Homo sapiens: one gene and its partners. The protein of the gene in region 4 purifies or fractionates together with the protein of the main gene of each other region. This does not show direct contact. Each region holds a gene or a part of one and is shown on either strand. Other genes may lie near its edges. The genes, in order: GNB4, PALS1, VDAC3, PLEKHG5 and PDP1.

The links.
Region 1: the proteins of PLEKHG5 (region 4) and GNB4 purify together in Homo sapiens (affinity purification with mass spectrometry; one large-scale study listed by BioGRID and IntAct). This does not show direct contact.
Region 2: the proteins of PLEKHG5 (region 4) and PALS1 purify together in Homo sapiens (co-immunoprecipitation; one large-scale study listed by IntAct). This does not show direct contact.
Region 3: the proteins of PLEKHG5 (region 4) and VDAC3 fractionate together in Homo sapiens (co-fractionation; one large-scale study listed by BioGRID). This does not show direct contact.
Region 5: the proteins of PLEKHG5 (region 4) and PDP1 purify together in Homo sapiens (affinity purification with mass spectrometry; 2 studies listed by BioGRID and IntAct, with this or other methods). This does not show direct contact.

What each region holds. Positions count from the first base shown.
Region 1 is NC_000003.12:179,412,601-179,417,493, forward strand, and holds part of GNB4 (guanine nucleotide-binding protein subunit beta-4), read right to left. Parts: intron 3,957-4,893; coding exon 3,893-3,956; intron 2,448-3,892; coding exon 2,285-2,447; intron 1,182-2,284; coding exon 1,115-1,181; intron 1,014-1,114; coding exon 812-1,013; intron 1-811. UniProt on the Homo sapiens protein: Guanine nucleotide-binding proteins (G proteins) are involved as a modulator or transducer in various transmembrane signaling systems.
Region 2 is NC_000014.9:67,327,871-67,332,763, reverse strand, and holds part of PALS1 (protein PALS1), read right to left. Parts: intron 1-4,893. UniProt on the Homo sapiens protein: Plays a role in tight junction biogenesis and in the establishment of cell polarity in epithelial cells.
Region 3 is NC_000008.11:42,397,604-42,402,496, reverse strand, and holds part of VDAC3 (non-selective voltage-gated ion channel VDAC3), read right to left. Parts: intron 3,786-4,893; coding exon 3,633-3,785; intron 2,847-3,632; coding exon 2,794-2,846; intron 710-2,793; coding exon 482-709; intron 1-481. UniProt on the Homo sapiens protein: Non-selective voltage-gated ion channel that mediates the transport of anions and cations through the mitochondrion outer membrane and plasma membrane.
Region 4 is NC_000001.11:6,484,610-6,489,502, forward strand, and holds part of PLEKHG5 (pleckstrin homology domain-containing family G member 5), read right to left. Parts: intron 1,343-4,893; exon of another isoform or gene 1,227-1,342; intron 859-1,226; exon of another isoform or gene 835-858; coding exon of another isoform or gene 715-834; intron 1-714. UniProt on the Homo sapiens protein: Functions as a guanine exchange factor (GEF) for RAB26 and thus regulates autophagy of synaptic vesicles in axon terminal of motoneurons. Involved in the control of neuronal cell differentiation.
Region 5 is NC_000008.11:93,922,539-93,927,254, reverse strand, and holds the end of PDP1 (pyruvate dehyrogenase phosphatase catalytic subunit 1), read right to left. Parts: coding exon 3,582-4,716; 3' UTR 1,187-3,581; downstream 1-1,186. UniProt on the Homo sapiens protein: Mitochondrial enzyme that catalyzes the dephosphorylation and concomitant reactivation of the alpha subunit of the E1 component of the pyruvate dehydrogenase complex (PDC), thereby stimulating the conversion of pyruvate into acetyl-CoA.

The DNA of each region.
Region 1 (4,893 bases), on a different chromosome or scaffold from region 4:
GTTCACGAAGATGAAGCAGCATGACTAGTTTCACACAGGTGCTTAATGGCAGCAGAACTAAGATTAGGTCCCGGGTTGCACTGACTTCAAAAGCTATACTCCACACTAATCAGCTGCTTTTTTCATCCTTATTGTTCTCTCTTTGGGTTGTTCACTTTGGTCCCAGAAAGACGAGACTTTTTTCTCATCTGAATTCACTGGTAGAACATCCACGATCTGCTTGTTTACTCATGATAATCCCTCCACTTTGGAAAAAAAAAAAAAAAGTGATATTCACCAGCAATTAAAAACCTAGGTTGCCAGGAACAGTGGCTCATGCCTGTAATCCCAACACTTTGGGAGGCCGAGGCAGGAAGATTGCTTCAGCTCAGGAGTTCGAGACCAGCCTGGACAACATGGCAAAACCCCATCTCTATAAAAAATACAAAATTGGCCATGCATGGTGGTGTGTACCTGTAATCCTAGCTACCAGGAGACTGAGGTGGGAGGATCGCTTGAGCCCAGGAGGTCGAGGCTGCAGTGAGCCGTGACTGCACCGCTGCACTCCAGCCTGGACGACAGAGCAAGACTGTCTCAAAAAAACAAAAAAATAACAACAAAAAAAAATCCAACAATAACAAAAAAGATCTAGGACTATGAATTGAAGCTTTCTTTTTTAAAAAATCAAAAACCCTTATGACTTGGAGATTCAAAGTTATAAGAGCACATTACTTGTAAGAATCCTTGAAGGCAATTTGTTGTTAAAATCATGCCATAGAGCTCAACACTTTAAATGCATAATAAATTTTCTCTAGAAATGCTATTCACTTACACTGACAGCATTGATATCTGAGACATGTCCCGTGAAAGACTGTCTACACATTCCATCTCGAATATCCCATAATTTGGAAGAGGCATCACAAGCACCAGAAACAAAAGTCCTCATGTCAGGACTCAAAGAAAGACTCATCACATCTCCAGAATGCCCAGTGAATGTGGTGGTCTGCTGGGCAGTTTCGATGTCCCATAAAGCACTGTAATTAAAAACAAAATTTCATGACAATTACTTCTTCTTATGTCAGTTCCTGCTACCACCCTCAAACCCATAATCAGTGTGCTTCTGGAATAAACTTACCAAGTTGTATCTCCTGAACTTGTAACAATTTGGCTGTCATCTAAAAAACGACAGCAGGACAAGTACCCTACAGCATAAAGAGTAGCAAATTTTAGGTTATCACTGATTGAATAACTCAGTTACCATGTGAAATAGCAATATATATTTTTAAAAATAGAATACTTGGGCAACAAGTGTTTGTCAATATAGTCTATAGTTCTACTTTTAGTTACTTCAAATCCTACATTGTCTATAAACCAAATTTTATCCACAAACCATTCTTAGGCATTAACTATGTTAATGACATTGTGCTGGGTACTCTGAAAGTTACCAAATTGAATAAGACACAGCCCCTGCCACCTAAGACAATTACCTTGGGAAGAACTATAATCTATGGCCGACTGTGTTAAGCACCCTGGAGAAATAGTTTTAAAATACTGTGAGAGGATGCCTCTGGGTGCACCGCCTATGAGTTAGCCCTTCTCTGCAAGGAGCAGTTAAAAAAATTTTTTTTTCAAATAAAAAATATTAAAAAAATAAAATATTGTAAGAAATCAGAAGAACAACAGTGAAGACTTTATGAAAGATGTGGCATTTGAATGCTTAGCATTCATCAGTGTTTCAAAATATGGAAATGTCAGAAAAACACCATTCTAGAGATTTTGTAAAAGCATGGTCAAATAGTATGGCTAAAAATTCAGATGGATAGATACCAGATAAGTGGCAATAAATTCCTGATTAACACCACTAACCCAATACTACACTATTGAACTATGATGGGCACACTGGCAAACAAAGCAATACACTATCATGGTGAAAAGCACTTCACTAATGTACCTTAATGCATACTTTCAATTATGTAATTGAGTACAGATGCCACAATCCCATAATTGTTATATGGCAGCAGAAAATGGAGAACATTTTATTTGCTTTATTTTTCATGAGTTTGAATTTTGTGCAGTAAATTTATCATTTTTTACAAAAACAATACAGCTATTTTTGAAAAATAAAATTATGATCAACGTTTGTATGACTATAAAAAGTTAATGTTTCCTTTGTTCATAATAATTTCATTCCCACCCGATTAATCCTCATCCTTTAGCCAGCCGAGCACAATCTGTCATTTGTCCTTGATCAGCACATTCCACACAAGGAATCGTGTGGTGGGAAAGAATATTTAGGGAAGCTCACCTGTGTGACCTGGCAACTCTCGGCTTACTCTCACATTTCCCTCTCTGGTCTTTAAGTTATATATAGAGCAGATGTTGTCCAAGCCTCCACAGGCAACATAATTACCAGAGGGAGCATAAGCACAGGTCATCACCCAGGAGGACCTCAAAGGAATAGCATGCATCTGTAGGGCACACACCACACATCACTCAGATTACAAAAACAGTCATCTATTGCATAAACCCATTTACAATGAAGTAAATATTATTAAAAATTAAACACATCTAAGAAAGATAAGTCAAATAAAATAATGTAATGGCTTGAGAAAGTGAACCATGAAAAATACAACACTAACGCACATTAAAATGCCTATTGTTTTGTATTATCAAATCATTTGAGTCAAAAAGTGCTCTTTTTGGAAATAATTCTCTTAATAAAATAATGAACATAAAGATGTTCCAAGGTTAATATACTGCCATTTGAAAAATTAAGTGTAAAATGTTAGAGGTTTTAATAGAATTTTCACTTTTGTAATAGTGCTCAGAAGAGAAATTTCCTCCAACATAACTCTGAACAAGAACTAGGGAAATAATTAGCAAGTATCAGAGTCGATTACATGAGTCTTCCATGAAAAGACAACACTGGCATCCCTCTATTAATAGGCCCTTATTCTGGGATCTCATTCAAACAATGGTGATAGTTTTTTATTGCTCTAGAAACAACACTGTCTGCTGCCTTGTTACCCTAACACCAATCATTTGAAGGTCAGATGGAAAAAAGGTGTATGAGAATACCACGGCTAAACAGTCCATACAGGGAATCAACACGTGGCAGGATTACTACTATGCTCTCACTTAACCTAAAATAATACGCTTAAAATACATTTTTTTTGTTTTATGAAAATATAGTTGAAAGATAATGTGCTTAATGATGATTAATAAAGAAAAACTATTATATTACAAAATTGTCTTAGCTAGCTTTAAAATCTCAATCAGGTTGAAATTATTATTTCACAAAATGGTATTTTCAAATGTTTAATAAAAATACTAATATGTATACACAGAGTATAAAGGTATTAGCTTATCAAAGTATTCCTGAAGCTTTTTCACCACTCAACTATTTTAAACTGGGGATTCCTTCCAGTGGATGTATTAGGACCATCCACAGTCTTTTACCACCAAGAGATCTACGTAAGTTGTCATTTACCTCCAATCTACTGTATCTTCTAAAAAGTCCAGAAGCACAAATCAGTGCCTGGAGCGGGCCAAAGAAGAGCTTCCCACTAGCCATCTAACTTATCCAAAACTAGAAATAAAAATCTCAAGGTCTTTGTCATATTAGGAAATGGGAATTTTTAAAAATCATTTATTAGTATATGTAAAATGGTACTCTTCTAATATTCATATATTAAATATGAGCCCTCTAGTAAAACATAGAGTCATCTTTGGAAATGAAAAAGGGTTAAACATTAAAAGTAAACACTAAGACAAAAGAGAAGAACTAGATTAAAATAAACAATAAATTTATCTCAGAAAGCAATTTAAGTTTGAGGTAAAAGAATAAAGGAAAGAACTGGTGAACAGCCAAACAAATATAAGGTTATTTAAAAGAATTATGAAGAAATTCTACCTTATTTGTTGTATAGCTATCCCAAATAATTAATTTTCCATCTTGAGAAGCACTGACTAGCAGCCTAGAGGAACAAACACAAAAATAATTTGACACTTAGAGGGAAAAAATAGCTTAAATTGGTTATGCATTGCATTAATGTAGAATAATTCAGAAAAATACAATTTTTCCAACTAAAAACTTGATACCAAAAAATGTTCTTCCAACTTTTAAAAAATTTATGCTGCATGCCAAAAATCTTGAACATATTTCATAAAATAAAATTTAGCAACTGACTAAAAATGTCTGGCTATGATTAAACATTTTTGTGGTAACAACATCTTAGTTATACAAGATTTGGGTGGATATTAGCTGACTGGTTTAGTACTTACTGACTTACTTAAATTTCATGACAAGAATGTACATAGAAGCCTAACAACCATATTTCATCCAATCTAAAAACACCAATTGAGAGCCTGAGAATATGACAATACTAGAGGTACAACGCAGGATACATCGCCTGCTCTTGAGGCCTCTACCATCTGGTGAAGATAAGACATTTACTCATATTTATATTAAATCAAGTAAGTAAAAACTGTCAGAAGAGGGGTATAAAATAAATGCCACAGGAGAGTAAAGGAGGAACAATGGCTAGATGAGTTAATCACAAGAGAATGAGTCTTGAAAGAAAATGTTGAGAGCTAAAGATACAGAAAAGGCTGTATTTTAGGAGAAAGCTATGTAAGATCAATGACAGGTAGAAAAATACACTGAGTGTTGTTTCAGGAATTGTGGGTCTTCCAGTAGTACAGTTTGTGAGAAAATGGAAAAATAAGTTGAGAAAAGCAGACTGGGCTTAAACTGCAGAAAGCTTTGTTAAACTAAAGAGTATGAACTCCTAAGTAATTTTAGCCACTAAATTTTTTGTTTTGTTTGGATTTTTTTTTTTTTTTTGAGACAGACACTCACTGTGACACCCAGGTTAGAGTGCAATGGCACGATCTCAGCCCACTGCAACCTCC
Region 2 (4,893 bases), on a different chromosome or scaffold from region 4:
AAAACTGTGAGATAATTCCTTTCCTAACCAAATAATATAGGATGAGTCAGAGATGGCCAAAGAACAAGGAGCGACCTTCATAGCTTTCCTTCTGTCTCTCCCAACCTCAGGAGCTCCTTTCCAACCCTGTCACGGCCACAATGGTTACCTTTGCTTTGGCATCTTCACGACTCATATTATGAACCATCTGGGACTCAATATATCCTGTTTTATACCACTATTTAGGTTTTCACATATTTTGTCTTATCTCACCAACAAAACTACAAGCTTCAAGAACACACACTGTTTCCCTACAAACATTTGTTTTCAAACATTCTAGACACTATAACCTCTTCCTAATAGTAACATCTGTAATATGGAGTGAACCTTTCTGGTTGGAGCAAGGACCTAAAATGCCATTTACTTTTGGCTCTAGTAAAGAGCCCTTGCCCTATACTATCTGCTGCAGAGAGTTAAAAGTATCCTACCAGAGTTTGGGAAACTATATAGAGTAGCCTACTTTAAAATACTGACTGAAGGAAAGGGCCATTTTACAAAGATAAGCAGGCAGCAAGGCTATGTGCAAAACTTATCCTGAACCCTCTAATTATCAGGCACATGGGTTCAAGAAAGTGAAACTCACCTCAAATCACCCCTGCCAATGAAGACAACTAACTTAAACTCAAGACAAAATGTCTCAGATATAAAAGTCACACATCAATACTATATTGGACCCATAGTACAAAACAATTTATATCATTCAACTGTTTGAACTTCTGTAACAGTAAGAAAACATATTAAAAATATGACAACTCTGGCTTGTCCTGAGGCAGTTTCTTGCATGACTCTCATTCTGGAATGTTGTACATCTGAATATGGCACACAGAATCCTTTGTTCCCAGCAGGGAATCTACTTCACCACTGTAACTGAACACACTGACATTTTTGCTAAAACTTATGTCTACCGTAAGCTCAAGATTATTGGAAGAACATTCTAGGACTCCACAGAGAACTGAAACTTTGTGGTATTGGAGTTGAAATGAAAATGATAAAGCCCGAATCCACCTAGTTTTTATCAAATTTAAGGCATTGTTATTCCATTTTGTGCCAAAATGGCTTATATCACTTATTTAGTACTTCATGTCTGAAGTTCTCTTTCAAATTACAATCCACGACTAAGATGAAACAAAATGTTTTAGCTCAAAATTTTTAGCTGAACTAGGCAAAACTGACAATAAGTTCATACTGCTAGATAGCCACTCTCAAGCCTTCATACTAGCAGAACAGATTCAGAGATTCAGAATGCAACTAGATAACCGGTTGGTTACATTTTGTAACGCCATCATTTTCTTAGCACAATTTTATAGAGTTAAAATTGAAAATCTGTTTTACTTCAGCACTTCTATCATTGAGTAATAAAGCACTATTAGAAATACCAATACCAGCGCAGGGGCTCCCCCGCCTGTAATCTCAGCACTTTGGGAGGCCAAGGTAGGTGGATCACATGGGGCCGGGAGCTTGAGACCAGCCTGGCCAACAGGGCAAAACCCCGTCTCTATTAAAAATACAAAAAATAGCCAGGCGTGATGGTGCACATCTGTAATCCCAGCTACTTGGGAGGCTGAGGCATGAGAATCACTTAAACCCAGGAAGCAGAGGTTGCAGTGAACCAAGATTGTGCCACTGCACTCCAGCCTGGGCGACAGAGTGAGACTCTGTCTCAAAAAAAAGAAAGAAATATCACAGGAGAAAAAAACTTAAGTAGAATAAATACAATCAGATACACCATCCTCTACACCAAAAACTGTGGAATACACATCCTAACAGGTGTGCACAGAACATTCACCAAGAAAGAACAGATGTTGGGCCATAAAATAAGGCTCAACAAATTTGAAAAGACTGACATCTTTCAGGGTCTGACCACCTGGAATTATAAATCAGTTAAAATCTTTTTCACATCTCCAAATAGGTGGAAACTATATAACATACTTCTAAATAACTCATGTGTTAAAGAGAAAAACAAGGAAGCGGGGTGCCGGGGGCTCAGGCCCATAATCCCAGCACTTTGGAAGGCTGAGGCAGGTGGATCACCTGAGGTCGGGAGTTTGGGACCAGCCTGACCAACATGGAGAAACCCCATCTCTACTAAAAATACAAAATTAGCTGGGCGTGGTGGTGCATGCCTATAATCCCAGCTACTCGGGAGGCTGAGGCAAGAGAATTGCTTGAACCCGGGAGGCAGAGGTTGCAGTGAGCAGAGATAGTGCCACTGCACTCCAGCCTGGGCAACAAGAGCGAAACCCCATCTCAAAAAAAAAAAAAAAAAAAATGAAGGGAAATTAGAAAATACTTCTAACAAAATGGTAACAAAAATACAATGCCAAAACTTACGGGATGCAACTAAAGAACTGTTTCGAGGGAAATTTATAATTTCAAATGCCTACATTTGAAAAGAAGAGTTTAAAAATTAAGCATTCATCTTGAGAAACTAAAGCAAGTGCAAATTATAGTCAAAGAAAGCATAAAAAGAAATGAATTAAATAGAAAAGAGACAATAAAGACAAATGCCCTCCAACTTATTTCTTTTGCTAAAGTGTCTGATTATTCCTTTTGATAATAATAATAATAATTATTATTATTATTATTTATTTCCTGGTTCCAGATTGTGTCTTTATTCCTCTTTCTGACAGACAGCAGAGCATTTGTCTGGCATATATTCTCTCTTACCACAATATAGATGATTTTCTGTGACTTTAACAATACATACAAGAAAAAAATCACATCTTTATGCCAATACCATTCTTTCACAATACTAGAAGAACAGATTCAGAGTACAATTACATAACTGGTTGGTTACATTTTGCATCCAGTGAGTAACACCATCATCTTCTTAGTTTCTATATCTATTTATTTATTTATTTATTTATTTATTTATTTATTTATTTATTTTTGAGACCAAGTCTTGCTGTGTTGCCCAGGCTGGAGTGCAGTAGCACGAACTCGGCCTCTTCAGTAGCCAGTACCACAGGCGTGCACCACCATGCCTGGCTAATGTTTTTTGTATTTTTAGTAGAGACAGGATTTCACTATGTTGCCCAGGCTGGTCTCGAACTCCTGGCCTCAAGTGATGCGTCCGCCGTATCTCAAAATAATAAGAGCTATTTATGACAAACCCACAGCCAATATCATACTGAATGGACAAAAACTGGAAGCATTCCCTTTGAAAACTGGCGCAAGACAGGGATGCCCTCTCTCACCACTCCTATTCAACACAGTGTTGGAAGTTCTGGCCAGGGCAATCAGGCAGGAGAAAGAAATAAAGGGTATTCAATTAGGAAAAGAGGAAGTCGAATTATCCCTGTTTGCAGATGACATGATTGTACATGTAGAAAACTCCATCGTCTCAGCCCAAAATCTCCTTAAGCTGATAAGCAACTTCAGCAAAGTCTCAGGATACAAAATCAATGTGCAGAAATCACAAGCATTCCTATACATCAATAACAGACAAAGAGAGAGCCAAATCATGAGTGAACTCCCATTCACAATTGCTACAAAGAGAATAAAATACCTAGGAATCCAACTTACAAGGGATGTGAAGGACCTCTTCAAGGAGAACTACAAACCACTGCTCAACCAAGTAAAAGAGGACCAAACAAATGGAAGAACATTCCATGCTCATGGATGGGAAGAATCAATATTGTGAAAATGGCCATACTGCCCAAGGTAATTTATAGATTCAATGCCATCCCCATCAAGCTACCAATGACTTTCTTCACAGAATTGGAAAAAACTACTTTAAAGTTCATATGGAACCAAAAAAGAGCCTGCATTGCCAAGACAACCCTAAGCCAAAAGAATAAAGCTGAAGGCATCACCCTATCCAACTTCAAACTATACTACAAGGCTACAGTAACCAAAACAGCATGCTACTGGTACCAAAACAGAGATACAGACCAATGGAACAGAACAGAGCCCTCAGAAATAATACCACACATCTACAACCATCTGATCTTTGACAAACCTGACAAAAAGAAGAAATGGGGAAAGGATGCCCTATTTAATAAATGGTGCTGGGAAAACTGGCTAGCCATATGTAGAAAGCTGAAACTGGATCCCTTCCTTACACCTTATACAAAAGTTAATTCAAGATGGATTAAAGACTTAAATGTTAGACCTAAAACCAGAAAAACCCTAGAAGAAAACCTAGGCAATACCATTCAGGACATAGGCATGGGCAAGGACTTCATGACTAAAACACCAAAAGCAATGGCAACAAAACTCAAAATTGACAAATGGGATCTAATTAAAGAGCTTCTGCACAGCAAAAGAAACTACCATCAGAGTGAATAGGCAACCTACAGAATGGGAGAAAATTTTTACCATCTACCCATCTGACAAAGGGCTAATATCCAGAATCTACAAAGAACTTAAACAAATTTCCAAGAAAAAATCAAACAATCCCATCAAAAAGTGGGCAAAGGATATGAACAGACACTTCTCAAAAGAAGACATTCATGCAGCCAACAGACACATGAAAAAATGCTCATCATCACTGGCCATCAGAGAAATGCAAATCAAAACCACAATGAGATACCATCTCACACCAGTTAGAATGGCGATCATTAAAAAGTCGGAAACAACAGGTGCTGGAGAGGATGTGGAGAAATAGGAACACTTTTACACTGTTGGTGGGACCGTAAACTAGTTCAACCATTGTGGAAGACAGTGTGGTGATTCCTCAAGGATCTAGAACTAGAAATACCATTTGACCCAGCCATCCCATTACTGGGTATATACCCAAAGGATTATAAATCATGCTGCTATAAAGACACATGCACACGTACATTGACTGCAGCACTATTTACGATAGCAAAGACTTGGAACCAACCCAAATCAATGATAGACTGGATTAAG
Region 3 (4,893 bases), on a different chromosome or scaffold from region 4:
ATGCATTAGCGGTACCTGGGTTCCAACCGAGAATACCAGTACCTGAAACCTCCACAGAATTACCGGGATGTCCCAGGATGCTCAGATCAATTTGGTGGTGGTTGTTGGTGACCAAAACAGACCTGCTTCCAGATACTGTCAAGATGAGAGGGCAGCAGAGGAAGCAGTAACATCTCCAAAGGGTCATCTTACCATGAGGTAAGCCATGCTCTGGGCTCCCTCTATCCCAGTGGTTCTTCTACAGAGGCTGGAGCTTCCTCAAGTTTGGGGTGCAGGCTGAGGGGCCAGTGACCACCAGCAGCACAGCCTGCACACCACGTGCACCAGCCTCCTGGCAAGGTTTTGCTATGAGGATAGCACCGCAAGGATGGATATTCACCAAGGCATGCTAAATCTGAGTACCATCACTTCTCAGCATGCTAATGGCTACAATATTTTGGGCAACTGCACTGATACTAAGGAATAAATTATAAACACTCACACATGTGTGTGCAGCTGGAAGTCCGCAGCCTTGTAACCCAGGGCGAAATTATTCTGTGACAGTTTGGATTTGGCTGTGTCAAAACTCATCTGATAGCCAGCAAGCCACCCTTCGAAGGCCAACACAGCCCAGCCATAGATGGTTGGTCCAGAAAAATCTATATCAACATTACTGCCAACACTAAAACAATCCCGTTTATAGGAGGCCTTCAATTTCCCACTCTTCTTTCTGCAATAAACAAACAAACAAAAGCAAATGATGAAAACAACATGAGTTCTTACTACTGTCTAGGAATTTTTAGAGTAAGATCCTCTCTCTCATCTCCCAATGTAAATATTATTTTGGTACATGCCACATATATAGTAAAAACATTTCAAATGACCTAGTTCTACAAATATAATTTTGTTAGGATTAGACATGTATAGACTACTATCATCTATTACTCATTATAAGTTCAAATGATAGGATACTTCATGATTTATTTCATAAAAGCATGAACAAAAGTATAAGAATGAATAAGAGGCTGGGTGTGGTGGCTCACACCTGTAATCCCAGCACTTTGGGAGGCCAAGGTGGGCGGATGACGAGGCCAGGAGATTGAGACCATCCTGGCCAACATGGTGAAACCCCGTTTCTACTAAAAATACAAAAATTAGCTGGGCGTGGTGGCACACGCCTGTAGTCCCAGCTACTTGGGAGGCTGAGGCAGGAGAATCACTTGAACCTGGGAGGCAGAGGTTGCAGTGAGCCAAGATCATGCCACTGTACTCCAGCCTGGCGACAGAGCGAGACTCGTCTCAAAAGAAAAAAAAAGAATGAATAAGATATTTCAGTGCCAAATTAATAATCTGAAGGTGTATGTATACAGACGTACAAGAAGCCAAATCTCTTTAAATGTTTCCAAATGCCAAATGCCACAAAGAATTAATCCCCAATATACATTATTAACCTATCATGGAGAGAAGCATGCTTTTTTGAAGGACAATACTGAAAAAATGAAATTAGTTCTTAATAACCCTATTCCAATCAAGCCTCTTGTAGGAATATTTGTCCTGGCCGGGCACAGTGGCTCATGCCTGTAAGCCCAGCATTTTGGGAGGCCGAGCCAGGCGGAACACGAGGTCAAGACAGAGACCATCCTGCCCAACGTGGTAAAACTCCGTCTCTACTAAAAATACAAAAATTAGCTGGGCGTGGTGGTGCATGCCTGTAGTCCCAGCTATTTGGGAGGCTGAGGCAGGAGAATTGCTTGAACCCAGGAGGCAGAGTTTGCAGTGAGCTGAGATAGTGCCACTATACTCCAGCAAGACTCCATCTCAAAAAAAAAAAAAAAAAAAAAAAAGAAAAGAATATTTGTCCTAAAGATAACTGAAGTGTGTGGCAAAAAGAACACACCTGTTGTTACGGCTGAGACAAATGTCACTTTGCATTCATCTAGCAACCTCCGTCCTTCAGATAGCATGGACCCACATTAGGCAGATAGGAAATGACACAATCCCCCTTTTTTTCACGAGGAAATTGAGGTCAAGAAGTTGGGGGATTTACAGAGGCTAAGAAATCAAGTAGGCAGCAGAACTAATCATTATAGCATCTGAGAGCCAGATCACCTTCTTAAGAAATTAACTTTTCAGCACCATAAGAGAGGGTGAGGGGGAAAAAAAAGGAATTAACTTTTTTTTTTTTTTTTGAGACAGAGTCTCGCTCTGTTGCCCAGGCTGGAGTGCATCTCGGCTCACTGCAAGCTCCGCCTCCTGGGTTCATGCCATTCTCCTGCCTCAGCCTCCTGAGTAGCTGGGACTACAGGCGCCCACCACCATGCCTGGCTAATTTTTTGTATTTTTTAGTAGAGATGGGGTTTCACCGTGTTAGCCAGGATGGTTTCCATCTCCGGACCTCATGATCCGCCCATCTCGGCCTCCCAAAGTGCTAGGATTACAGGCGTGAGCCACCACGCCCAGCCAAAAGGAATTAACTTTCTCAGCAGAATACCATGTCCATCAATCTTCAGAATTGCTTAAGATTCATCTATGGTCTCAAGACTCTTCTAGCTCCTAAATTTTTTCTACCATGTGTCTCTCTCAAATACATTTATACATTTTTGCTCATCTATTCAGTTTTCAAATTGTTCATCCTGCCTTGGTGGGGAGGGATCTTCCTTTATCTGTATTACCTATACAAGGTCTCCAATATTCCTTATAGCAACCTTCTGAGTTCTTCCTGCCTCTGAACTTTGCACTATATCTCCTTATTCTAAAGCTCTCTACCCTTTCAGGCTCCAAAAACGTTTCAGGAAATGGGATTTGAATAATTACCCTGTGTTCGGTACAAATATGGTATCAAGAGTCAGTTTCAACCCTTCAGCCAACTGAAAAACAAAGATTTAAAATAAATAATTAGTAATTTTCAATCATTTATCCAACTCAAGAAACCAATTCTAAAGTTTCCTGAGTTCTTTAACAAAAAAAAGGAGTCATTCAAGAAAGCAAAATATTAAATTATGTAATAAGTAAGCTCTCCATCCTCCTGTCCCCTCACCCCAGCCTTCATCATGGTTCTCCCACTAAAAAATGGGGCAAATCCTATTTTAGCAAGTTACATAAAATACAGTTCAAAACCAAACAGAATTCCCATACAACAAAATCATCTTGATACTCTCTTGAAAGAGCAGTAATGAGATAACCTGACATTTAACAAGCAGGCTAAGTCATTTTACTCAGTTTTGCATGTACATTATCTATACATGGTATCTCTATCAAAAACAGTGCCCTGTACATAGTGGGCACTTGACTATATCTAATAGATTTTCTCCTTGAAAACATGAGAACATTTTAGAAAAATTTTTCTGTCAAGCCAATTTTTCAACAATTACAAAACTAAACCAAATTTCCGCAAATAGTTTGTTCTACCCAGGAGAAGCTTAGCTGTGTAACAGAGAACCAGTCAGAACAAAGATGTAATATAGTAATTAGAGTACTCACAAACAAAGCCTTATTTTCTAGAAACATAAGACATCAAAAAAGGCCACATGCAGAGAAAAAATATGGCTACTAGATAGGTTGTAAGATCTCTTTTGATTATATTTGGGGTATGTTCATCATTCAATCTACAAGATAAATTGAACCTATGAATAACTTCTAATGCGTTCTCTTACCTTATTCTCCCAAGAGATTTCTGTCCCTAGAGTATTGTCTGTGTTCCATTTCTGGGTGAAGGTAAGTCCATAGTTACAGACCTTATATTTGGTTTCTAGGTTGCCTGATGCTTTCCCTGTATCAGTGTAAGCATGACCAGAAGTAGAAAATTCCTGGTAAGCAAGAAAAAATAATTACTTTAAAATTAGCTCATCAAATAGAAAATATTCACTTTGGAAAGCAGTGTTCAATGTATCAAAAACAATACCATTTACTGCTTGCCACAGCCCTACTCTAGAGCAACTTCTTTCCTCCTTTCCCCTTGCTTTTCCAGTCCCTAAATATTTTAACCAGTTCTGCCAGGCGCAGTGGCTCATGCCTGTAATCCCAGCATGTTACGAGGCCAAGGCGGGTGGATCCCTTGAGTCCAGGAGCTCAAGACCAGCCTGCGCAACATGGCAAAACCCCATCTCTACAAAAAATACAAAAAATTAGCCAGGCATGATGGCACGTGACTGTAGTCCCAGCCTGAGCCCAGGAGGCAGAGGTTGCAGTGAGCCGAGATCATGCCACTTCACCCTAGCCTGGGCAACGGAGTGAGACAGCTCAATACCAGTTTCAGATCTTTCCATTACTCTACTTCTCTTATTAATATCTCTTGTTCCATATACTCTCTTACCAAATGGTAATCCTAAATTCTCTCCTTTAAAAAAGAAGTATCTTTACTGAAAACAAATGCCTTTACTAAAAAGACCAAAAATATTGTATCTTAAACATTTTACTTTCATGACCTAAAAAAAGATTATCAGTTCTCTGCTATATGTTTCAAACTATCAGTTAATTTCAAGGTCCTTAAAAATCCCAAAATACTGCCCTCCTCCTTTTTAATAGGGTCAACACTTTACTACTTCCTTTTAAAAATGTTTTTTTTTATTGTGGTAAATACATGTAACATACATTTTACCATTTTAATAATGTTTTAAGTGTACAGTGAAGTGGCATTAAGTACAGTCACACTGCTGTGAAAACTTTAATGCTTTTGTGTGCAAAACTGCAAAACTTCTGCTTAGACAATTTCAATATTTGAAAGTACTACCCATTTTTCAAAATAAAGTAGAATGCTATAATTTATCCTTCTTTCCCCCTTTCTATCCTGTCTACCTTTAAGAGTGCTTTCTATCAAACAGTTACTATGAATGAGACTCTGTCTCAAAAAAATAAAATAAAATAAAATACATCCTTTGCCCTAGTTCAGTGCCCTTTAAGTCATATGACAATAAG
Region 4 (4,893 bases):
CCAGAGGCAGGACTCCCCCAGCACTAGGGCGGAATGGCCCCTTCTTGAAGCCAGACTCCAGCCCCTTCTCTCAGACCCAACTGCCCCTCCCTCACCTGCCTGCCTGCCCACCATGTCCTGCCTCTGTCCTGCAGGAGGGACACCAGGGTCCGGGGGGGAATGTTCCCAGGTCTCAACCCAAGGGAGGAGAGAGCCCACCCATGGGAACAGCCAGCTCCCACCCCCTCTAACGCCAGGCAGCCAAAATAACAGAGGGGGGCCCTTTGGGGAATACACGCATGTGAGGATGGGGACAGAGAACCAGGCGTCCACCCTCACACAAGGGCTGGGGCCAGAGGCACAAGGAGAAACAGAGGCCTCTGGGGTAGGAGGAGGCTGTGGGCAGGGCCAGGGCAGAGGAAGGAAAGGAGAGGGGCGGCCCAGCATAGGGCCCGGGACCCACAGGTGTGTCCGGAGCTGGCCCCAGACACAAAGCGCCAAGAATTGGCGGGGACATCTCAGCCGGCGGGGACACACCCCGGAGTCCGAGGTCCCCGTCACCAGGGTGCAGCTGCCCAGGTAGGGGGCTCGGCCGCCATGGGCCGCATCCTTCCCCTGGGGGCCGCGGGGCCCATAGTCACGGGCACCCCCTCCCTGGCCTCCCGCACAGGACTGGGCGGCTGCAGGCGAGAACTGGGCACCCAGCCCCGTTCCCGCCCCGTCCCGGCCCCGTACCTGGCTATCACCGTCGCGGGCACGACCCCCGGCCCAGGAGGGCTCCGAGTCCCGGAGGGGCAGCCCCGGGCCCGGCCTGGAGGCTGCTAGGCGTCCGGAGACACCGGGTCCTGTCCCCATGGCGGCCGGAGGAAGCCGCGGTCTGCGCCGCCCGCCGGACAAAGCGCGGAGCCCCGCTTCCTGCCATTGTGCGGCCGCGCCCGCCCCCGCCGAGCGCGGGGACCCCGGGGAGGGCCGGGCCCGGAACAGCCCCCAGCCCCCCAGGAAGGCGGACACCTCCCTCCCGCCCGGGCCCTCGCCACCCAGCCCCGGGGATCCCCGCCTCCCCGCCCGGGAACCCCTACACCCCCGCCTCCGCCTGCCCGGGCGACCCCCCGCCTCCCCGCCTCTGCCCAGACCCGGGGACTCCACACCCCTACCTCTGCCCGGCCGGGGGACCCCCACAGCCCCGCCTCCGCCCAGTCCCCGGGACCCCCACCTTCCCACCTCTGCCTGGCCCGGGGTACCCCCACCTCTGCGCCTCTGCGCGGCCCCGGGCCCCTCTCTTCTCTGACTCCCTCCTCAACACCAATGCCGGGCTCAGAGGGCTCCTCAGAACTTGCTCTTTCTCCTGGGGAGCTCCTTGAATGCTGGAGGCAGGGGGCGCTGGTGACACCCCCCCCCACCTTGGAGACTGTGGAGCCCCTCCCCTGGGTGACTCGATCCCCGCCCAGCCCTGGGGGTGCCCACTCTGCTGTGGTCCCCACCTCACCCTCAGCGCCAACACGCACGGTCCCTCCCAGCCAGAAGGGTACCTTCCCTCCTCCCTTCCTCCTGGAGACCCCCACCCCCGCCTCGGAGCCTCAGCCCAGGGGACCCCTTCTTACTCCCAGCAAGGGAGCTCTTAGAATACAGGCACCAGAAGGGGGAGGCCAGGATGGGGCACACTCCCCTCAGGGTCCTTGGTCCGGCTCTCCATCTAGCCCCAGGGACACCCCTCTCTGCTCCAACACCAGCTTTGAGCCCCAGTCACACACCCACCCCAACCTCACAACCAGCTCTCATCTCAGCCCCTCCCATCAACCTGGAGACCCCTGCCCGAGAGCCTGAGCCCCAGGGACACCCCCTCACACCGACTGCTCACTGCCCAGGTACGGCAGAGGCCGAGAGCCAAAGGCCGGTGGCCTCTGGAAAGGGCCGTGGGCAGAAGGCGGGCTGCTCTGAGAGGCTATCCTTGGCAGCCCCCAGGAGCTGGGTGAGGTGGAGGCATCAGGAAACCCTGGCGACCCACATGGCACAGCAGCCCAGGTCCCTGCAGTTCTAGGCCAGGTCCCCACCGCCAGGGGGCACTCAGCAAAGCCTGAGAGGACGCAAACGCCCAGACTCTGGTGCTGGAGTCACCACTACACGGCTGTCAAAGCGCTTTTACACTGATTCCCAGGAAGGCAGGGCAGGCACCATTAGCCCCATTCACGGCGTGGGGGATAAAGTGACATAAAGAGACAAAAGTCTACAGGCAAGACTGAAACTCAGACTGTGGCTCTGGGATTCTGGGATGGCCTCCTTGGGACACTCCTCAGAACCCATGGGGGTGAGGTGGCCATGCTGTCTGTCATCAGCCCACCCACCCCTAATTGCTCCTCCTCCACCTGGTTCCATGGGGAAAGAGGGTGGGAAGGGGGCCAGGGTCCGTGAGATGGCTTTGGGAGGGCAGCAGCGTTTTATTAGAGGCTGGGAGACTTCCAGGGCTGTCTCCACTCCCAAAGCCCAGGTCACCCACTGTCTACACCACAGGCAGAGTTGTGTTTTTGTTTTTTGTTTGTTTGTTTTTGAGACGGAATCTTGCTCTGTCACTCACGTTGGAGTGCAGTGGCATGATCCCAGCTCACTACGACCTCCACCTCCCAGGTTCAAGTGATTCTTCTGCCTCAGCCTCCCCAGTAGCTGGGATTACAGGCGCCCGCCACTACACCCAGCTACTTTTTGTATTTTAGTAGAGATGGGGTTTCGCCATGTTGACCAGGCTGGTCACTAACTCCTGATCTCAAGTGATCCACCCCCACCTTGGCCTCCCAAAGTGCTGAGATTACAGGCATGAGCCACCACACCCGGCCAACAGGCAGAGTTTTGAAAACTAAAACTTCCCATCTTGCTTATAGTGAAATCCCACCATGGCCGGGCTCCCGCCTCCCTCCCAGCTGGTCCGCACAGGGTCCACCTGCCGGTCTTCCTTCTCTCCCTACAGCTCGCCAAGCTCAGGGCCTTCTCCTCTGTATTTTCTGTCTGGAATTCCACGCACCCTATCTTGAAACAGCTGACACCGGGCCCCAACTTAAATGTTACCTCTAAGACGTCCTTTTCCCTCATCTTAAAATAAACCACCCTTACCCTCCCACTCTCAATTCCTTTAAGTTAAATTATTTCCTTCTTAGTGTTTATTACTACCTGTAATTCATTTCTTTGTTCACTTTTTTATCATCATTCTTCCCTACCAGACTGTCCTCTCCAGAAGCCAGCGCCTTGGCCGTCTGCATCTCACTGTGTCCTCGGCACTTAGAACAGTCCTGGTGCACAGTAGGTGCGCTTGGTGGGGATGAGATCAGTGAACAGATGAAGGCAGAAGGGCCTTCATGCCACAGAAGGACATGGGGACAGGAAAGGGCTCGGCCAGGATATCCCTTCCTGTGGCCGACAGTCAACAGAGCCTTCCCCACTGCCAGACCGAAGGTCTCTTCCTCCTCCTAGTATCCATGACCTTGGGCCTGCTGGCCCTGGGCAGGTGAGTTCCTACTTCAAATCGGGTGGTCTTGCCCCAGACCTCCACCCCCATACTGTCCTGTAGGCAGATAACTGCATTTCACTGAGCATTCCATGTGCCACCCCATCGTGGGAGTTCCAGGCAGTGAATCCCATTCGCTCTTCTCAAAGACTCTTAGGAGGAGATACTGTTACAATCCCCATTTAACAGATAGAGAAACTAAGGCCTGTGTCAACTGACTTGCCCCAAAGTCACCAGCTGCTGCTACGTAGGGAAATGGGTGCCTCAGGCACAGGGCAGGCGTGGGGCCTGAAGACAGCTGAATGTTGGTTTGGGCAACAGGGCCCTGGAGATTGCCTTCCTGAAGACACGGCAGATCCCAAAGCCAGCTTGTGGGGAGCCCACCGGTGTGGGGTAACCAGGTTGCATCAAGTGGAGACCACCAGGGCTGGGTCAGGGCGGATCACCAGAGGTCACCTGAGTGCCTGGGCCCTGGCCATCCCTGAGTGAGGCTGCTGCCTGGGTACTCAGCAAGGGTGGGGGACTGTTCCTTAGGGGCAAGAGTGCAGAGCAGAAAGGAGCCCCCAGCCCCTGTACCAGGGCAGTGGGGTGGGCCTGGGCAGGCTCCTGCATTCCCACCTCCTCTCCACAGCAGGGAGCTGAAACAGCTCAGGGGCAGGCCCAAGAAGTCCTGGCCCCCAACTCCCTGGGGAGGGAGCCCCTCCCCAGCCCAGCCCCAGCTCCAGGCTTGTGAGTCAGGGCCGGCTTGTTGAAACTGATACCCAGAAACCAGATGCGGAGGCTGATGAATAATGGAGTCTCCAAGGCAGGACCCCCGCACCCGGCTGTTCTCCCTCAGTATCACCTCCCCCAGCCCCAGAAAAGCAGATGGGAAACCAGGGATCCCCCAGGCATCCCTGCCCCACAACGAGCTGGGGCCCCAGCCTGGTCTGGGTGGGAGAGGGACTTCCCTGTCCAGGAAAGGACGCAGGTCTGGGGCCAGCTCCAGGCTCTGCCGACAGCAGACGGGCCTGGAACCAGGAGTCCGAGCTCTCTGGCTGGAGGGATGTCCTTGCCAGGAATTCCCACCAAGGCTAAGCTCCCCTGGGAGCCTGCTAGTCCCAAGGCCCCACCCAACACCTTAGAAATCCAGGGGTGGAGACTGCATGCATGGGCAGGCCAGCCAGGGCGGGGTGGCTTTGCCAGGCGGCTCTCTACGCTCCACCCGGCCTACCCACCCTCCTTTCCCCTAGGCCCAGGCCTCACCCATCACCCCTTGGGTTCTGAGGCTCACCTGGAGTCAGAGCCTGACCTAAGGCCCTGCCCTGTGCCGGGCAGATGGCAGGGACACAGAAAACCTCTCCCCAGGCTAAGCCCACCGCACGGGCCCTGGAAGCCAGGAAGGCCCCTTCCTCCCCAGGGAGCGGTCCTGGCTAGTATGC
Region 5 (4,716 bases), on a different chromosome or scaffold from region 4:
TCAAAGCTTTAACAGAAAACTTACCTGTAATCATTATTTGCAAAGTTAAAGCTACACCTTAACCAAACAGCATTTCTGAGAATTATTAATCTAAAAATTATCTTTAAAGGGGGGCAGGGGGAGACTGACAACATCCATCAATAGAGAATGGATAAATTGTGATACATTCAAACACTGGAATGCTACCCAGTAATAAGGAACAGACTATGAATACAATCAACAACATAAGTGAATCTCCAAAAATTGAGCAAAAGTAAAACATAAAAAGTACATATGTGGGCCAGGTGCAGTGGCTTACGCCTGTGATCCCAGTACTTTGGGAGGCTGATGTGGGCAGATCACTTGAGGTCAGGAGTTTGAGACCAGTCTGGCTAACATGGTGAAATCCCGTCTCCACCAAAAATACAAAAGTTAGCCATGTGTGGTGGCACATGCTTGTAGTCCCATCTACTTGGGAGGCTGAGGCAGGATGATTGCTCAAACCCAGGATGCGGAGGCTGCAGTGAGCCGAGATCATGCACTCCAGCCAGGGCGACAGAGCAAGACTGTCTGAAAAAAAAAAAAAGTACATGTATGATTTATATAAATTTCTAGAAGCAAAATTATGGTGAGAGAAGTGGAATGATACTTATGAGGGGAGGGATTAATGGAAAGGGGCATAGGGAATTTTCTGAAGAAAAAGTTTTATATCTTTGTTGGGGTGTTACCAAATGTTACATCGCAAATTTTAAATCTGTGCATTTTGTTTAAATTATACCTCAATTTTGGCCAGGCATGGTGGCTCACACCTGTAATCCAAACACTTTGGGAGGCCGAGGCGGGTGGATCACAAGGTCAGGAGTTGAAGACCAGCCTGGCCAACATGGTGAAACCCCATCTCTACTAAAAATACAAAAATTAGCCAGGTGTGGTGGCCCGCACCTGTAGTCCCAGCTACTTGGGAGGCTGAGGCAGAAGAACTGCTTGAACCCAGGAGGCAGAGGCTGCAGTAAGATGAGATCGCACCACTGCACTCCAGCCTGGGTGACAGAGCGAGACTCCATCTCAAAAAAAAAAGAAAAAAAATTTTACCTCAATTTTTACAAATTTGAAGTACTATGTATCTACTGGGTCCTAAAATTAAATATAATCTACCACACATAGGAAGCATCTAATCAATCTTGTTATTAAAAACCAACACAGGACATTCAGAAAGCAGATATGAAGCTTTAATTCACCATAGGCATTTCTCCAACCATTCTGTACATTAAACTTTCATGTCTTCACACATATACATCTTTTATAAGACAGTTTTCTTAGCAATATGGTACTCTGTACCATACCAACATTCCATTTAACTAGTTAAGGGTGTATTATATAACATGAACCACTGATTAAATATAAATACAGAAGTTGAATACATAGGTTAGAAAGTTTAAATTTTAAAAAAATTTAAGAAAGGCTAAATACCATGAAAGTTTACATGTATTCTTTAATTCTAGACACCGTACAACAGTGACAACCAATTACAATAAAATCACAATTGCTTTTAGATGACAGTACTTTCAGATTTCTAATACCCAATTACTTTCATTTCCACAATGTCAACTTCATGCTGCATTTTCATTTCTATAGAGCAGACAAGCTTCCAGACTGCAGACCAAGTTTCTTGTGTAATAATACTACTATCTTGATCATGACCACAGGAAACCAATTTTATATTCCCTGTACTATAGAGATGAGACATTATTTGGTGTATATGAAACTCTTCAGTGGTGGTGTTCAAGAATATTCAAATAGTAGCTGAAAATAGGGTTTGCTAGAGCAGTCCACATATTTCATTAAAAGAAAAATGCCCAGTCAAAACATTTAGAAATAAATATATAGTACAGCCTTTCCCTCTCCCAAATACTACCCAGGAAAAAAGTTCCAAGCTGACTTAAAAAAAAAAAAACACACAAATAAAAACAAAAACACCTCAAAAAATAAACATTATATGATATTCTGAGCAGCAATCTTCCTGAGTCTATTTTCAATTGAAACAAATTCTGCAGCCAATAGTACACTGATTCAGTATCCACAGTCCAGAAGGAGTTCTTGAACATCTAGTTCATATCCCCAAAAAATGTGAAAAGACTCCTAAACACCCAAGTTATTACACAATGGGAAGCTGATATTGGCTTGTATTAAAATCCAGGTGAATATCAAACATAATCACAGCCTTAACAGTGATGCTAGAATAAGTGATGACAATATGTGCACAGCTGTATACAGATCACTATTAAACACAGGAACAAAATGCCACTTGATGCATATCAAAAAGCCAATTTGAATATATTTATTTCATTTACATTGATACAGTATTAGAAGGGACTGAATATAATTATGGAGACTGCTGCAAACATTTGATGCCACTAAGTATTCTATTAAGCATCAGGCATGCACAGTAGTTACCTTTTAAAGTTTCTCATGTATATATCTTAACACATATATCTTAAGCTACAATATGTTTAAAGCATTTAGTCATTTTAAACCCAAATATTTTAATTGACCTATGTCTAAATGGAGAAAAACAGAAACTTCCTCCTGTCTCAATACCCGATGGCAATATTAAACCTTACTCCCCAAATTGATATTTAAACTTATTTATGTCATCTTTAAAATTCCAAAAATAATGAAAAGTCTTATCATTACTAAATAAGAAGTACGATTCCCCGGCAGCAGTCTACCCACCACACACTTACGGCATGCCAAGCCTTTGGGGATTACATAAGAGTGATGTGCTGGTGGCTACAGATGACAATAATTGAAGAGATCAGTCTCTTCTTTTTATTCTGGATCTCCTTATTTTAAACTAAAGCTTTTCATTAATACAAATAAAAAAATCTTTTTTTCTTTCTTTAACTTCAATAGAAGAGTAGATAAAACTAAAAACCCTTATTGTCTCCAAGTGTGTGGCAAAATAGAAAATCTTTCAATTACATTAGGAAATCGGGTGGATAACGGAGTATAGTTATTCCACTTAAGAAGCATTCCAGTCAAATAATCACAAAAACAAATTCAGATTGCTTGGATCTTGGTCATTTATGGCTTGAAGAACTGGATTTGAAAACCACTTTAGGCTAAAATAAATGTATATGAATAATGCATAGACTGTGTATCTAGAAAATCATGCAATAAATATATGTTCTCATGTACACTGGAATCTCAGTGAAGAAAGGTGTGAACAGTACTGTTTCTTCACTTTAACCAAGAGACTACACACAGCAAGATACTTGCTTTTGGCCTATTCAAGATCTTATTTGCCAGGTCATCCTAATTTTCTCAGGTTGGTAAAAGAAGCTAATGTTTCAAGACACCTGTGATAAAGAAGTGACTTGCTTCAAGTGCAGGTGCCATGAAATCTGAGCTAGGCAGGACCAGACTCTCCTGACCCTGCCACCCTGCTGCAAAGTCAATTTGGAGTACCTGACTAGCTAGAGTATCAAAAGGGTAAATGCTTAGAATGACCAACTGGAAATGTTTATTATAGTAGTATCTTTTTAAAAAATCTGCCCTTTAAATGTATATCATTTGAGAATTGCCAGTGAAAGAGCCACTCACTATTCTTGGTTTTGATACGCCCCTACAACATGAGAATTGAACTGAACTACAATGATTGTAATGTCATCTCTGTACATTCGAGCAAGCTCTTCAGGAAGACTAAGCATTTTAGAGAGGCGCTCATGATCAACAGTCCCAAACTCGTTGTTGCCCACAGCGTGGCGAATGAGATGGGTTGCTGCGTTCTGATCCTCAAATACCGAGGACATTTTGGTTCTCCTTTCTGTTAAAAGGCCATGCATCTGTCCCAGAGTCACCTTGTAGCCACCAACAGCTATTGGCTGTTGGTGATGCATGCCAGTTAGGTACTCACCCACAATCCTAACCACATCCTGCCTATGCATAGTCTCCCACAACCCATCAGTAGCCAACACCAGAAACTTATCCTGTGGCCTTAATCGGTGGTAAGTTACCTCTGGCTCAGCAGTGAGATAAGGAGGTGTGTGATAATTAGGAGGAATAAACTTGGTATATTCATTGTCATTCAACTGGTCTGGGCCAGATTCTATCACTCTCTTTTGAAGGTCAATGCTCCATTTGAACTTTACATCTCCAAATGCCCTAAATGGCATCAGCAAGCCAAGCAGCCGATCCTGTTTCACGACACTCTTGGCCTCACTCTTTGGATGTTCCAATTTCAGCCGTTCTAGTTCTCTTTCATTTTGAGCATTGTGGTCATTAGACAGCGTGACTGCTGACCATGAGCCGTCCTCTTCCTGCACACCCAGCATGGCTCTGCTATCGCCAGTATTGGCCACATGAAGGTCAACACCATCCACATGGGCCACACAAGCAGTGGCTCCAGAAAATGCCACTCGAAGCACCAGGTAGTTGAGAAAAGAATTAGGATCACCAACTTGCGCCTCCAAGGAGATGTCATTATCAAGCCTCTTGAAGGCATTAATTAGAGCCTCCTTAACATCAATATCAGTCGACTCACCAGTGTTGAGGTCTATAAGCTCTTGCCAGTAAGTCCTCAAGCTGTTAAAGTACAATTTGGATGCCTCCTTACTAAAGTAATCATTGGGGTGCTTGTGCCACTGGAGAATGGGTAGCAGTGCCCGGCCGCTCTCCACTGCATTTTCAATCTCTAGCAAAGTCTCATGGGGTAACAAAGAGACAGCAATATAATAA